Linked DNA regions of Homo sapiens: region 1 is linked to region 2. The links come from fine-mapping of genetic effects on gene expression. Tissue or cell type: lung. Region 2 holds a variant in brackets; the other region holds the start of a gene. All regions are shown on one strand. Distances are from middle to middle.

Evidence for each region. PIP is the estimated chance that this variant, and not a neighbour inherited with it, causes the effect.
Region 1: HOPX starts here. The variant in region 2 is fine-mapped to the expression of HOPX in lung (TOPMed, PIP 0.96).

Annotation. Positions count from the first base shown.
Region 1 is chr4:56,676,992-56,685,171 of GRCh38, reverse strand. It overlaps HOPX (HOP homeobox), which reads left to right and starts at 3,876. Exons shown (of 4, transcript NM_032495.6): 1 at 3,876-3,917. LOC105377666 (a long non-coding RNA gene) reads right to left here and starts at 1,939. Exons shown (of 3, transcript XR_941078.3): 1 at 1,782-1,939; 2 at 494-648. RefSeq lists a silencer at 3,829-3,878.
Region 2 is chr4:56,724,705-56,732,884 of GRCh38, reverse strand. No RefSeq gene overlaps it. Among named protein-coding and RNA genes, the nearest start is that of CHAER1, 24 kb to the right of the region's middle. The variant C/T (reference allele first, on the strand shown) is at 4,190.

The DNA.
Region 1 (8,180 bases), 48 kb after region 2:
TTTGTGTGGGTTCCACAAAGATGACCAAGGATAGGAAAATCCAGCTTCTTCTTGTAACTATTAGCAGTAGCTACCCATTTATGGAGCGCCTACTATGTTCTGGGTATTATGTAAGTGCTTTACATATCTTTAGTCCTTACAACGAACTTGTGAGATAATTCTCATCAGTCCCATATTACAGATGAGGAAACAGAGAGAAGTTATATAAGTTACCCTTGATCAAATTGGTGGTAAGCAGAAGTAGTGGGACCTCATGCAAGTCTGCAGGATTGAGAAGCCCACACTCTTTCCTTTCCACCATTTGTCCAGTCACAGTAAACACTTACTGAAGCCCTTTCCTCCCCCAGGCATTGTTCCTCTCTTGCGGAGGAACATCCCACGACCCCATTCTTCCTCCTAATTCTCTTGATTTGAGCCATTGAAGAAAAGAGTTCCCAAAACCTGTGGCAAGGAAAAGGTTTAGAACAGCAAATAGAAGAAAAATAACACTTACTGTGGGTGGTAATTTGAAGTTTGTTAATCACCAGGGGAAAAAGAACTATGTGAGAATTACCATCTCAGCCATATGTCTCTAGTTTACATAACCCAGGCACTAGCTGGAGCTCTCAGGCAGAGGCAGAGGCAAACATGTGGGATCCTGGAATTCCACTGAAATATAATAGACAACAGGAGGAGCAGGAAAATGAGTCATGTTTTTATAATTAGTTGTGTTATTGGACCCAACTTCTCTAAGAAATCAACAGCATCATCCAATCCCATCTGGCACAGGAGAAGACAAGAGGCTGACAGATTGTGTGATAGTCCCTGGAAATCGGTGGTGATATAAAGACCTAGGATCTAAACCTGCAGGAAAAAAATTAGTGGCCAGCTACCTCCCTTATTTGCAGGCTGTTGAAATACTCTTAATTTTACTGAGAGCCAAAGCAAACTTATCTCACTGGGAAAAAAAAAAAAAAAAGCATAGAAAGAGAGAACTGATATAGTAAAACCCAATTGCCATGGCTGGACTGGTGCCCAAGCATGAAAGAAGTTTAGGTTATTGTATTTTAAAGGATCTCTTAGATTGGCAAAACTGTGGGTAGCACATTTCTGCTTCTTCACTAATAAATGAATCTTGATTTTGTTCAGATGATCAGAGCAATTTGTCTGGAGAAGGTGGATTCTTCCCTTAGACCCAGGAGAGGAACCATGATCAGCCTGATCCCTTTCCTCTTTGAAAATGATGGATTTAGCCAATGTGTTGGCTGACACAACCCAGTGCTCAGCAAGGAGACATAAGTGAAAGACTCCTAGTGATTTCTGAAAAGGTTTTCCTCTCTAACAAGGAAAGACACTTAGGAGAAAGAAAGCCTGGGACACTTTTTACCTGTCTTTGGATATTTTGTTTAAAGATATGATGAATGGAGCTACTGTAGCCATCTTACCACCATGAGGAGAGACAATGCTGTCACACTGAGAGCTACAAAATGAAAGATGGAAAAAGCTAGAGGTCTTGGTTTCATCACTGCACCCCCAATCAACCGGAACCATATACCTGCTACCTGCAGAGTCAAGTGATGTAAAAACTGCTTCATGGTTTCAATCACTTTTTCTTTAATCTCCATGATACACCGGATAAAGAGAAACAGCTTGAAGTTGACACATTATGCAAGAGAAAAAGAAATGTCTCATCTGAACCAGGATGAGACTCTGTTGATGCCAGGACCTCTATCTGTTGGGCTGTACTGCCTCCACGGGAATTTAGAAACTGAACAGATGGCACATATTTATTGAGCACCTACCAAGTGCCAGGCACTGTTCTGGATCACAGGAGTAAACAATGCAGAAAGGTCATTGTTGTCATGGAAATCACATTCTGGAAGACAGATGATAAACAAAAACACAATTAAGGATAGGTGAAAACACTCTTAGGCAACTTTCTAAGTATTGGTTCAAGCCAGTCCTGAGTGAAACCCTGACTCTGGAATCAGATAGAACTGGATTCAAATTCCACCCCCACCATTCACTGTGACCTTGGGAAAGTTATTTAGTCTTTCTGAGTATCAGTTTCCTCTTCTGTAAAATAACGATAATAAAAAAAACTAACTCAGCCGGGCATGGTGGCTCACGGCTGTAATCCCAGCACTTTGGGAGGCTGAGGCAGGAGGATCCCTTGAGCCCAGGAGTTTGAGACCAGCCTGGGCAACATGGTGTAATACTGTCTTTACAAAAAATTAGCCACTTCTGGTGGTGTGTGCCTGTGGTCCCAGCTACTTGGGAGGCTGAGGTGGGAGAATCACCTCAGCCCGGGAGGTCAAGGCTGCAGTGAGCCAAGATCGTGTCACTGCACTCCAGCCTGAGTGAAAAACAAAAAACAATACAACCTCATAGGGTTATTGTATTACATATTAAATAAGCAGACAAACTCTCTGTACAGTCCTTACATGGAGCCTGACACACAGTCAGTCTTACTAGATTATGGATCATCACCATTGTCATCATCATAATAATTTGTGCTGTCATAGTAATAATTTGTGCAACAACAATAATAATAATAATGCTGTGGGTATCAAATGATAAACAAGACATAGACCCTGCCCATTCAAAAAATCGTGGCAGCAAGAATCCAGATTTGGCCATAGAATGGTCAGAAGTTAGGCATTGAATTAGGCAGGAAACAAAAGAATTCCTCTGGTAACCAAGGTTGGGTTAACCTGGGCCCCCTGTCTCTACTCTTTCCCACACATGTTTTATAACCGTCACCCCCTTTTCCAAGAGGGAAAGAGGTATTCTGAATGAGCGCTGCTCTTCTTTCACATATGGCTACTGTTCCCAAGAGACTCAAGTGGGCTTTCTCTTTCTCTGCTGAAGTGAATAATATAGGGTGTGGCTCTCTGGATGGCACTTACCGGTTTGTGCTACAAACCAGCAAATACACACAGATAATCCCACAGATGATCTCACCAGACCTTGTCTCCCTTCCCTCATTCCCTCAAAATCATACCCACCTAATAATGTTTAGTGCACTGCAATTGAGTATTAGCTCCCGTATCTAGCTAATAAAATACGTAAACATCCAACAGCCGGGTCCTCACACCCACACACATACCCTCGCCTTTAGAAACATTTCCACGGATTGTCACACGAGCCCCTAAACTCTCTGTCACACTCTGCATGCATCTTCCCACAGACTTGCTCACACACTGGCTTTTTATTCGCAAGCCCATGGGGAATCTTTCACCTCTTAGACAGGAATTTCATTAACGAAGGGGAGGGGATGGTAAGAGGAAAGTACAGATGCAGGGGAAATAAATGAGAATCGTTTTTGAGGGAGACCTAAAACTGTATCATCCTAGCCCGAATCTCTCCCTTTTAACTGTTCTTTATGTGTACATTCTGTGCCCAAAAGAAAACAACCTTTCATTAATTGGGCAATTGTCCAGGCTCTTAGCTTGGCATCCAGCTCTCAGAGCTGTGAAATCAACCGCACCAGATCTACGCTTTGAAATGAGGCAACATCTAACTGGAAACTCGCTCAAAGTAAGGAAGTGGATGAGAAGACTCAGGGTCCCTTTTCTCTTCCCCGTCTTCTCTCAGCCACATCTCTCTTATCCTATCTTGGTGAAGAAGCTTGCTTGGCTAGGAGAGAGGTCAGGGACGAGAAGATAGTGACGAGAAAGTTCCATGAGACTCTCAGAAGTCCCAGCCTGAACATCAAACCTGAATAACCAGGAGAGACGTAACCTCGGCATACTTTCAGTGGTTTACCTCCTGCCCACGCTGCAGGTTTTTCAGGTCCTTGCTCGAGTGTGTGCTCATAGGCGTAAATAAACGTGCTATCAGCAGCCTGCGTCAGCCAGCCCAGCTATTTAAGCAGGCTGGCATCAGCAAACACAGCTTCCAAACCCAGGGCTTGCGCTTGCCTTTGCCTCTTCCACGTAAGTACCTTTCAAAGGTCTGCCTTTTATGCAGAGGAATGAGTTTGTGCAGGAACTAGACCAAAATGCTATCGTTACCGTATTTGCTCATCTGTTGGAAAACGGTAGAGGTGAAAGGGAGAATAGGAATGACAAGCTTACCCCCAAGCAGAAGCTAGGAAATGCTGCTGGGTGTAAGACATCAGTCCCTTACAAACAAAACTGCATGGGGTCGAGGGGAATTTGGAGGAAGGGGAGTTGGTGTTGGTCTTTTGGCCAAGCAGGTGAGATGTTTTTCTTACTCGCTTCTATTTTGGAAAGATAACTTTGAAACCAGCATTTGTCAGATGCCTATGATTTTCTCATTTAGAAGCAGATTATTGTTATTCTACATCCCAGACTTTTATCTAAAATCAGACATAATATCGTTTTAAAATATGTTTTGTGTTTGACAAGGGGAAGTGAGGGAGCTGTCTCTGGATGGAGAAGTGGCTTGATTTTGAATTTGCAGTTTATTGTTACTTCTGGTTCTCATAATACTTATTTATAACAACAAAAACAGTGATTTTTTTTTTTTGAGATGAAAAGGAATCCCAGGCTCTGGGGTTTAGAGAAAGTATAGGTTTGTGATATGTGAGTGGCATCCAAGTATTCAGGGTAAACTGTTAAGTAAAGTGGAATAAGAATCATTGAATAAAAAGGTACAATCTATCACATAGTTCAGATAAGAAGCTCTTAAAGAGAAAAGGAATGCAAACAGTTCCCATGAAGTGGCACTGCTACTGGACAGGGCCCTGTAGTGTGTTTAGTTAAGTAAGGTTAAGTATAACCAGGGCAGGCAGAGAACAAAACGAAGGTGCTGGGGAGGTGGGAAGGGAGGAGAAGGGAGGAGCAGATAGTAAAGGATTTATAATTAAACAACAGATTCATGAAAAGCAGATAGGAATAGAGCAGGGCATTAATTCCATAGTCTATCCCTTTGTATCAAGAATCTGGTGAAAGCCAAGGACCTTTCTCAGGTATTCATTCCTCGCTTCCTGAGCCTCCCCTTCCACCCCACACCCCAACCCACACCTTGACTCTCACTTTCTGGACTCCTAGAAGTCCACGGACCTAAATGAAGCTCATATGCTTATTATTATTTTTTTTTAACTGGGCTGAAGCTGCCGACTGAGGAACCTCTCCAGAAGTGGTGGCGAGTTAAAAACCTTCAACGTGGCAGGCACTTCTTAGCCACCAAACTGAAGCTTGGTTTTAAGTTCATGAAGGTCTTATGTCAATCAAGCAAATAATGATTAAGGGCTATATCTGAGAAAAGATAAGTTGAAGGCCAAGAGGAAGAGAAAAGAAAAAATGGATCTTGTTCTCAAAGAGCTTGAAATCTAAAGTCCAGGGAGATAATTAGATGTTATGTCCATGCACAAAATAGGATGTGTTGAGTGATTACATTTGTATAAAATGATAGAAAATGCAAACTAATCTATAGCAAAAAGAAAGTGGCTGGGTGCGGTGGCCCACGCCTGTAATCCCAGCACTTTGGGAGGCCGAGGTGAGCGGATCACTTGAGGTCAGGAGTTTGAGACCAGCCTGGCCAATATAGTGAAACCCCGTCTCTACTAAAAATACAAAAATTAGGCGGGCTTGGTGGTGGGCACCTGTAATCCCAGCTACTCGGGAGGCTGAGACAGGATAATTGCTTGAACCCGGGAGGCGGAGGTTGCAGTGAGCTGAGATTGTACCACTGCGCTCCAGCCTGGGCGACAGAGCAAGATTCTGTCTTAAGAAAAAAAAAAAAAAGAAAGAAAGAAGATCCATGGTTACTTGGGAAGGTAGGGGCAGGAGAAAAAATGTTTGGGGGGACTCCCAAGGTACACAGGAAACTTTTGAGGGTGATGGATATGTTCATTATTGTGACTGTGACCATTTCTTATATGGGAAGATTTATCAAATTGTGTACTTTAAACATTCAGTATTATAGCTGATTACTCCCAACAAACAATACTTTAACCACATTATTTTTATTTTTATTTTTTTGAGATAGGATCTCACTCTGTCACCCAGGCTGGAGTGCAGTAGCACGATCTCGGCTCACTGCAGCCTCTGCCTCCCAGGCTCAAGCAATCCTCCCACCTCAGCCTCCCAAGTAGCTGGGAACACAGACTTGTGCCACCACACCCAGCTGTAGAGATGGGGTTTTGCTATGTTGCCCAGGCTAGTCCCAAACTCCTGAGCTCAAGCGATCTGCCTGCCTTGGCCTCCCAAAGTGCTGGGATTACAGGTGTGAGCCACTGTGCCTAACCAACAATATAATTTTTAAATAAGTAAAAGCATTTCTAAAAATCAGCCTATGTAACATGCTGAACATAAAAGATGAGTATTTATGGAGAAAAAAATAAATTCAGTAAAGCACAGAGACCAGACAGTAAGGATCATAGACTTTTATAGAACTGGGAGGGTCCCTGGAGATAATCTAACCTAGTGGTTGTGGGGCCTGGAGAACTTAAAAAAGAAAAAAAAAATCAGTGACTGGGGCAGGGCATGGTGGCTCATGCCTGTAACCCCAGCACTTTGAGAGGCTGAGGCGGGTGGATCACCTAAGGTCAGGAGTTCGAGACCAGCTTGACCAACATGGTGAAACCTCATCTTTACTAAAATACAAAAATTATTCTGGGCATTGTGGTGAGCGCCTGTAATCCCAGCTACTTGGGAGGCTGAGGCAGGAAAATCGCTTGAATCTGGGAGGCAGAGGTTGCAGTGAGCGGAGATCGTGCCACTGCACTCCTGCCTGGGTGGCAGAGCAAGACTCCGTCTCAAAAAAAAAAAAAAAAAAAAAAAAATCAGTGACTAGGCCCCACCCTGGACCAATTAAATCAGAATCCCCAGGTGTGCAGCCCTGGGATTGGTTTTTAAAGTTCCCCAGGTGAGTCTAATGTGCAGCTAGGGATGAAAACCAGTGAAATCAAAACCATTCACTTGACAGATAAGGACAGTAAGGGCCAAAGAGAGGATGGGGATGGCCCCATGCCACCTGACCACCAAGTCCGAGAGTAGGATGAGGCTTGGGAGGCTCAGGGAACACAGCAACAGAGGCTCAAAGGTAAAGAAAGAGGCTGCTTCTGGACACTCCCAGCTCCAGCGAGGATAGGGTATCCAGCACCTTCCAAGCGAATCCTTGGAACCCAGACATGCTGCGGGGCAGCAAACTAGAAGAATTACTCAGGGCCTCCAAGGTGCATTATTAAAGGATTGTGCTAATGAGTGAGAAGGGATGTTTCAAAACTAAAGCTTCCTTTTTTTCCCGATTAATATCTGGCATAAGTAGAGGATTCTAATTATTGAAAGGAATCCCAGTGTACACACTGGGCACTCTGTTCTGGGGGACAGCCAAGTTGTTCTTTCAAGAAATAGCATGTGTGCATTCCCAGCACTGGGATGAGTCTATCTGGCAGTCCAGGGTCTTTTAATTAGGACTTCCAGGTCAGGCCCAGGCAAAAGCATGAGTGGGTGAAGTTTGTCGTTGTGACTTCTGTCCTTCCTGTCTGTGGCTCCTTAGCTCTCCCTCAGCACCTGTATGGGTGCAGGTGTCAGTTCAGAGGTGTCTGTGGGACCACAGAGCCTCACCGGCTCCACCCTGGCCATGTTTCCAATTGGTTTTTACCTCCCCTTCAATCCAAATGTGCCACTTTCCAGGTCTTATTCTCTCAGGGCTTGTTTTCTCCATCTCTGGAAAACTAATTAAAATTAGGATGTTAATAGACAATAATCGTTTAATGAATTATGTCACTCCCTGGTATAGTAAGTAGGTTCCAGCAAGATAACATATCTAGGAGTTCCTTGAAATGTTATATATAGTTACCATTTGAATTTTTAAGTGGGGCAATCAGGCAAATCAAAGTTTTATGCAAAATATGTGCTCCTTATTGGTCAGAATTCCAAGCAACTTGCTGGGCAAAAATATACCAAGATTGTGGGTTTTCAGTATAATTTTTCAAACCATATCCAGTAGGCAACCATCTATAGGTTGTGGGCCCTGTTAGATTGTTTTTTCTAAATTAGTCCATTTTTTGTCAATGCAGTTGAACTCATCAGAAGTAGCTGCATTTCCTGTGTCTTTCTGAAAAATGGAGAGCCACCTTAAGGTTACTATAATGGAGACAAAATGTCAAGAAATTCTGCTCATAAGGATTTTAGAATATTACCTGCTTCTTTCTCAGGAGCAGAAGGCTGGCACCAGCAGAGTAGCTTGCCTAGTATTAGTGGCCAGGAGCCTCATTCTTTGGGGAC
Region 2 (8,180 bases):
AGATCACTTGAGGTCAGGAGTCCAAGACCAGCCTGGCCAACATGATGAAACCCTGTCTCTACTGAAAACACAAAAATTAGCCAGATGTGGTGGCATATGCCTGCATATGCCTGTAGTACCAGCTCCTCAGAAGGCGGAGGCAGGAGAATTGCTTGAACCTAGGAGGCAGAGGTCACAGTGAGCCGAGATCAGGCCATTGCACTCCAGCCTGGGTGACGGAGACTGTCTCAAAAAAAAAAAAAGAAGAAGAAGAAAAGAAAAACATGTGTAGAAAGGGAGCTTCGAGGCTTTTGAGGTCTAGGCAAGGAACTTACAGGGAAAGGGGAGTAACTGAGGAATTTTGAGTGGGGAAATGGTGTGATCAGACTGGTATTTGGGAAGATTAGACTGACAGTGGCATGTGACCTGGACCGAGACTGGAGAGAGGTGGAAAGTTGGGGGTGACTTCATGGACAGTTGAAGTGAGTCTGGGCAGAAATTATGAATGACTGTGGGCAGCAGGAATGGATAGAGGGCCTATGGAGATGCTTTGCTGAGGTGGCCATCACATCCAGGATTTAAAAGTCTGTTCCCTTGTTTTACCTTGAGAGAAAGTGAAGTGTGGCTCTAATCTTTCCTGGAGTGGCTCTCACAGCCTTTCTGTGAACAGACTCCGGGCTTGGAAGCAAAGCGTGGATCCTGGGTCTGAGGCTGGCAGCAGGGCTTGGAGAGCTGGAGGCATCTGCCACCCTCCCCGGCCCTCCATGAGCTTTCCCCCCCCCCGTTCGCTGCTTCAGAGGAAACACCAGGCTGAGCTGGATTGCAGAAGTAAGCTTCCCTGCCACGCCCAAGGCCCTCTGTGCTGTTGGGTCAGCCCCACTCTGCCTGGCCCCCTGTCTGCAATGATAAGGACATAGCACCTCAGTCATGCATCTCTGGGAATGTGACAAAGACAAGGATAATTAGCTATGTGTTCCCATTCGACCGTCTTTTCTCTCCTCCATCCCCAGCAGCTAAAGAGAAGTTCTCCTAATTTGCTCAGCTTCTCCCTCTTCCCTACTCTCCAAAGAGAATTCTGTCTTTGCTGGTTCTCTGTTTTTCTTATGATACAGAAATAGACATAGAGAAGGCAGACTTGAGAGTTAGGAGGACAAGGGGTAAAATTCCTGGTGGCTTGGGTCAATTCTAGGATCACCCTTTTGTGTATAAAAAGGGGCTACATGAACAGGATACTAAAGAATGAAGCCAGAAGACAAAGTCAATTTATATCATAAGGAGCTAAGAGAGAAGTATGGAAAAAAGAAAATAAAAAATAATCTGGGCTGGGTTTCAGGGAACATTCGTAGAGGAAAGCTACCAAATGAAGGGCTCTGAGAACCAAAATGTGCTGCTGTAGGTTATAGGTTAAATCTTTTTTAATGCCAATTAAATGTTGGAATTTTGTTTTGGTTGCTTAGCTATGTTTTTTTTTGTTTGTTTGTTTTTGTTTTTTTGAGACGGAGTCTCACTCTGTCGCCCAGGCTGGAGTGCAGTGGCGCGATCTCAGCTCACTGCAAGCTCCGCCTCCTGGGTTCACGCCATTCTCCTGCCTCAGCCTCCCGAGCAGATAGGACTACAGGCGCCTGCCACCACGCCCGGCTAATTTTTTGTACTTTTAATAGAGACGGGGTTTCACCGTGTTAGCCAGGATGGTCTCGATCTCTTGACCTCATGATCCGCCCACCTCGGCCTCCCAAAGTGCTGAGATTACAGGCTTGAGCCACCCTGCCTGGCCTATGTTTTTAATGTTTTATTTTAATGTCACAGTGTGCCAGACTGGACAGTATTGTATTCCAGCTTATATGTGGGTTATTGAATAGCATAATGGTTCACATCAGGAATTCTGGAACCAAACTCCCAGCTCCCAAATCCTACTTCCACCACTCAATAGCTGTGTTACCTTTGGCAAGATATAGTACTTGCTTCTCTGTGGCTCAGTTGCTTTGTCTGTAAAATAAGTTAATGAGAGCCTCTACTTCGGAAAATTGTTATGAGGATTAAATGAGTTACTATTTGTAAAGTTCATAGAAAGCTCATGCAAAGCCTGGCATGTAATTGGCGCTATAGAAGCATTAGCTATTATTAGTACAGGGACATCTAAGGTTATGAGATTTTTCTGTCTTGGTTCAACCAAGGTGGTGAAGACAACTGTCAGAAGAATTATCTTCAGCAGAGCAAATCTTAAGTTTAGGGAAAGTTTGGGCTGGGCACGGTGGTTCATGCCTGTAATCCCAGCACTTTGGGAGGCTGAGGTGGGCAGATCACTTGAGACCAGGAGTTCGAGACCAACCTGGCCAATATGGTAAAGCCCTGTCTTTACTAAAAATATAAAAATTAGCTGGGCGTGGTGGCACATGCCTGTAACCCCAGCTACTTGGGAGGAGGCTGAGGCATTAGCATCACTTGAACCCAGGAGGCGGAGGTTGCAGTGAGCCAAGATTGCTCCACTGTACTCCAGCCTGAGTGGCAGAGTGAGACTCTACCTCAAAAAAAAAAAAAGTGACATCTGGTCATCATTGTCATATTCTATGAGTTACAGATAAGTCACCAGGTGCAGCCCACATTCACAGTGAGCAAATCACACAGGGGTGAGTGCCTGGAGGCGGGGCTCATTGGGGACCACTCAGGCTGGAGTGCAGTGGCATGATCTCACCTCACTGCAACCTCTGCTTCCCGAGTTCAAGCAATTCTCCTGCCTCTGAGTAGCTGGGACTACAGGCACACGCCGCCATGCCCTACTAGTTTTTTGTATTTTAGTAGAGATGGGTTTTCACTGTGTTGCCCACGCTGGTCTTGAACTCCTGAGCTCAGGCAATCCACCTGCCTGGGCCTCCCAAAGTGCTAGGATTATAGGTGTGAGCCACTGCGCCTGGTCTCACTTTCTTGATTTGGTTACAAAAGGTTGTGACTTCACTCTTGCTCGCAAACTCTCTTCGAGTCTCTTGCTAGATTTTTTTTTTTTTAACAGTGTCTCGCTCTGTTGCCCAGGCTGGAGTGCACTGGTGCCATCATGGCTCACTGCAGCCTTGTCCTTCTGGGCTCAAGTCGTCCTCCTACCTCAGCCTCCCAAGTAGCTGGGACCACATGCACTTGTGCCATCATGCCCAGCTAAAATTCTTAAATTTTGTAGAGATGAGGGCTTGCTGTGTTATCCAGGTTGTTCTTGAATTCCTTGGCTCAAGTGATCCTTCTATCTCAGTCCCGCAAAGGGCTGGCGTTACAGGTGTGAACTGCCATGCCTAGCCTCTTGCTAGCTTTGATGAGGCAAGCTGCCATGCTGGAGAAGCCCCTATGGTTAGGTACTGAGGCCAGGCTGTGGCCAACAGCTTAAAAGGAATTGAGGCCTTCGGTTCAGTAACCCCTGAGGAACCACTGAGTGAGTTGCAAATGGATCCTGACTCAGTTGAAAATTTGATGGCAGCCTTGTGAGACATCCTGAAACAGAGATCCCAGCTAAGGGATCCTGTCCAGATTCCTGACCCCAGAAACTGCAATAATAAATACGTGCTGTTTTAAACCATTATGTTTAGAAGTAATTTTTTACACAGCAATAGATAACTAATACAACCATGTACCAAAGTAAGAACTTGGGAGTTGGATTAAGGGCAGAGGTTCAGCTCCAGGACATCAGGGTGGAAGTAGGGGAGGGCTTGTGGGAGAGAGCCACTATAGAAAGAGCATCCCGGCCAGGCGTGGTGGCTCACGCCTGTAATCCCAGCACTTTGGGAGGCTGGGCAGGTGGATCACGAGGTCAGGAGTTTGAGACCAGCCAGACCAATATGGTGAAACACCGTCTCTACTAAAAATACAAAAACTAGCCGGGCGTGGTGGCACGCGCCTGTAATCTCAGCTACTCAGGAGGCTGAGGCAGGAGAATCGCTTGAACCTGGGAGGTGGAGGTTGCAGTGAGCCGAGATCGTGCCATTGCACTCCAGCCTGGTGACAGTGTGAGACGCAAAAAAAAAAAAAAAAAAAAAAAAAAAGGAAAGAAAGAGCATCCCCTGGTCCCACCCCAGGTCCTAATGGGGAGGAGAGTGACTCAGGCTGCGCCCTTCAAGATGGCTGGCAGCTGAGGCTGTTTTAGTGCTTCCTGTTTCAACTGCAGATCTGTCTGGGAACACTTCGTTCTCATCTTGCATCATTGGCCTCCCTCCAGCACTGGAGTATGTAC[C/T]TTCTGGAAATGCCTACTTATCTTTATGACACCAGTCTCTTCGTTTGTTTATTCATTCATGCAACAACTATGAGCTGGACACTTTTCTATATAGAGTGGATCCACCACGAATAAGAAATCACCCTCACACAGTTAAGAGCTTCTTCTGGCTTAAGAATTCCCATCTTTTTTTTTTTTTTTCTGAGACAGAGTTTCACTCTTTTTGCCCAGGCTGGAGTGCAATGGCCTGATCTTAGCTCACTGTAACCTCTGCCTCCTGGGTTCAAGTGATTCTTCTGCCTCAGTCTCCTGAGTAGCTGGGATTACAGTCACCCGCCACCATGCCCGGCTAATTTTGTAGTTTTAGTAGAGACGGGGTTTCGCCAGGTTGGACAGGCTGGTCTTGAACTCCTGACCTCAAGTGATCTGCCCGCCTCGGCCTCTCAAAGTGCTGGGATTATATCTGTGAGCCACCGCGCCCGGCCGAGTTCTCATCTTTGAAATTGCTCCTCTACCTCCTTCACTGGGGTGCCATTTCATCACACACCCCTTAAAGACTGGGGTTCTCCATGGCGTTGTTCTTGTCTCTAATTTCTTCTCACCTCACACAGTCCTTCCTGGTTGTTCCAGACTTCATGATTCCTTAATCACTTCTAATGATTTGAAATCTACATCTCTAGCTCAACAATCTTTCCGAAAGTCACACTGTAGGGCTACTTACATATTTCATAGACACTTAGATCTGGGAAGAGCATTGAACAATAAGTAAGTAAATAAGTACTGAATGGTAAGTAAGATCTGTTCCTGTGCTGAAAACCAAAAGTGCCAGATTAATTGAGAAATTGAATATCTGCACACTGTCTTATATAGGCATTTTAAGGAATTTTCAGGGGGCTAATTTTAACTTTATGTGATTTATACAGTATGGGATGACTTCACTAAATTAGAAGCTCAAACGACAAAAATTAAACTCATTTCCTCCATCTCTTCCTTCTCTTGTCCTGCCCAAACCTTCCTTTTTTCCTATCTTTCCTCTCCTAAATAACAGTACCATCATCCACCCAGACAATATATGGGGTCATCCAAATTCTTCCCCCTGGCTTTCCCTGACCTCCTCCAATCTCATTAAGTCCTGTAGAATTTACCTCCTAAATACTTATTTCCTTTTCTCCATTATCACTGTCCTGGGCTCATTTTAAGCTTGCATCTTCTTTTGCCAGGTCTAATGTAATAACCTTCAAACTGATCTTCCTGTATCTAGGCTCACTCCCTGTGCTTTGTCCTTCACACCGGTACCAGTGCAGTGTTTCTCATTGCTGAACTGTAACATTCTGGCTCAAATCCTGTAGTGCTGCCTCCCACTGTCCACCCAGTAAAGTCCATATTCATTCACTTGGTGTTTGCAACCCTTCGTAATCTGACCCCGGCTACTTCTCAGCCTCATCTGTAGCTGCTTCTGCACACAAACTCTATGCTCTGCCCACAGGATTTGGAGTCTTCCTGCCATACTGTGGCTTGCTCCCTTTTGCTTGTAAGGCCCTTGCTCGACCTTGTCTACCAGGTGGACTCCAAAGTAATCCTTCAAGACTCAGCTCACACATTTCCTGGACATTCTCAGATAAAATCGATGTGCCCTACTGTCCTATGCATTACTTTTATTATAGCACTTTTTACACCTTCTTTGCATCCAACTCTTCCAAGTTAGTGTTCTCTGCTTGTCTGGCAGCTCCTTGAAGGCAGAAACCCTGTGTTTTTATCTTAAATTTCAATGATTGGCCCTTCACTAGGCATCCAGTGAAAGTTTGCTAAATGAGCACTGTTCACAATAGCAAAGACATGGAATCAACTCAAATGCCCATCAATGACAGTGGATGAAGAAAATGTGGTACATATACACCATGGAATACTATGCAGCCAGAAAAAGGAATGAAATAATGTCCTTTGCAAGGACATGGATGGAGCTGGAAGCCATTATCCTCAGCAAACAAACACAGGAGCAGAAAACCAAACACCACATGTTCTCGCTTATAAATGGGAGCTGAACAATGAGAACACATGGACACAGGGAGGGGAACAACACACACTGGGGCCTGCAGTGGGGTGGTGAGCTATTTAGCATCAGGATAAATAGCTAATGCATGTGGGGCTTAATACCTAGGTGATGGCTTGATAGGTGCAGCAAACCACTATGGCACACGTTTACCTATGTAGCAAACCTGCACACCCTGCACATGTACCCCAGAACTTAAAATAATAAGATAAAATTAAATTTAAAAAAGAAAGTTTGCCGAATGAATAAGTGAATAGGCAAATGAATAGTGCAGGGCGGAGTCCACAGGTGGAGAGACAAATGGGCCCTGACATTGGGAGCTCTAGAAGGAGACCAGGAGAAGTGAAGCTATTTCTCTTTGTTCTCAGAGCCTGCAGCCCCGACTTATGTTCATCTCTTTGTACATGCACACCTGCCACAAAAACTTCTAATTTGGTGAAGTCATCTCCTGCAGTATAAATCACATAAAGTCAAGATTTGCCCCCTGAAAAGTCCTTAAAATGCCTATACAGGACCATATGCAGATATTCAATTTCTCAGTTAATCTGGCACATCTGGTTTTCTCTTCAGCACAGGAACATATCTATTTCTTCAGCTGGGAAACACATGAAGTAGCTTCCTTGCATTCAGTGGCCCTATGAAAGAAAAATACCTATCACACTCATCACAGTAAGATACTCCTCACTGTGAGAAATAGGAGGAAACAGACTGGGTGAGAGACCAGTTGACTCTCATCTAATATATCTCACTCCTACTCGGGGCTGTATGCACTTGGTAACACCCCATTCCCCTCCTCCACCCCAATCACCCAAATCCCAAGCCCACTCCTTGACTTCAAAGTCCCCGAGGCTGGCTGGTCCTTACCAATCCAACCACATGCCCTGCTCCTCCCCAGGGTCACCCACTGCCAAGTTAGTTCATCTTTCTTCCTGCTCTAGTCCCAACTCTTTCCCACTTCTCTTTGCTTAAGCTCTGTCTTCCCTTTTCCTCTCCCTCTATTCAAATACCACCGACAGGTCAAAGCCCAGCATATTTCAACCTTTCCAAAGGTTCAATTCTCTCCATGTCTACATTGATCTCTCTTATTTTTCAATTCTTTTTACCTTTAGGGTCAGAATCGAACATTTAAGTTAAACCTTTAACTGTTAGTCTATGGAGAATTTTCCATCGCAGGGAGTTTTGTAATTCACTAACAAATATCTGTATCTCTTTGTAGAAGGGTAATTGACAAATCAAGACAAATCAGTAATTAGAAGGACAAAACCATGTTGGCAGACTAGGTAACTATGTAGCAACTGAATTGCCCATACACCTTTTTTTTTTTTTGGTTGGGGGGGACATGGCGTCTCTTCGGTTGCTCAGGCTAGAGGGCAGTGGGGTGCTCTGTGCTCATTGCAGCCTTGACTTCCTGAGCTCATGTGATCCTCCTACCTCAGCCTCCCAGCTAGCTGGGACTACAGGTGCACGCCACCACACCCAGCTAATTGTTTCTATTTTTAGTAGAGACAGGGTTTCACCATGTTGCCCTGGCTGGTCTTGAACTCCTGGGCTCAAGTGATCTGCCCACCTCGGCCTTCCAAAGTGCTAGGATTACAGGCATGAGCCACCGCGCCTCTCTCATACACTTGTGATGAGAGTGAAAACTGTTTGGCAGTACCTACTGAAGCTAAATATTCATTTATCAGCAATACCTACGAAAGCTAAATATTCATATGTCAGCTGGGTGCGGTGGCTCAAACCTGTAATCCTGGCGTTTTGGGAGGCCAAGGCGGGCAGATCACTTGAGGCTGGGAGTTCCAGAACAGCCTGGCCAACAGGGTGAAACCCTGTCTCTACTAACAGGATGAAACCCTGTCTCTACTAAAAATTACCCAGGCGTGGTGGCGCATGTCTGTAGTCCCACCTACTCAGGAGGCTGAGGCAGGAGAATCTCTTGAACCTGGGAGGCAGAGGTTGCAGTGA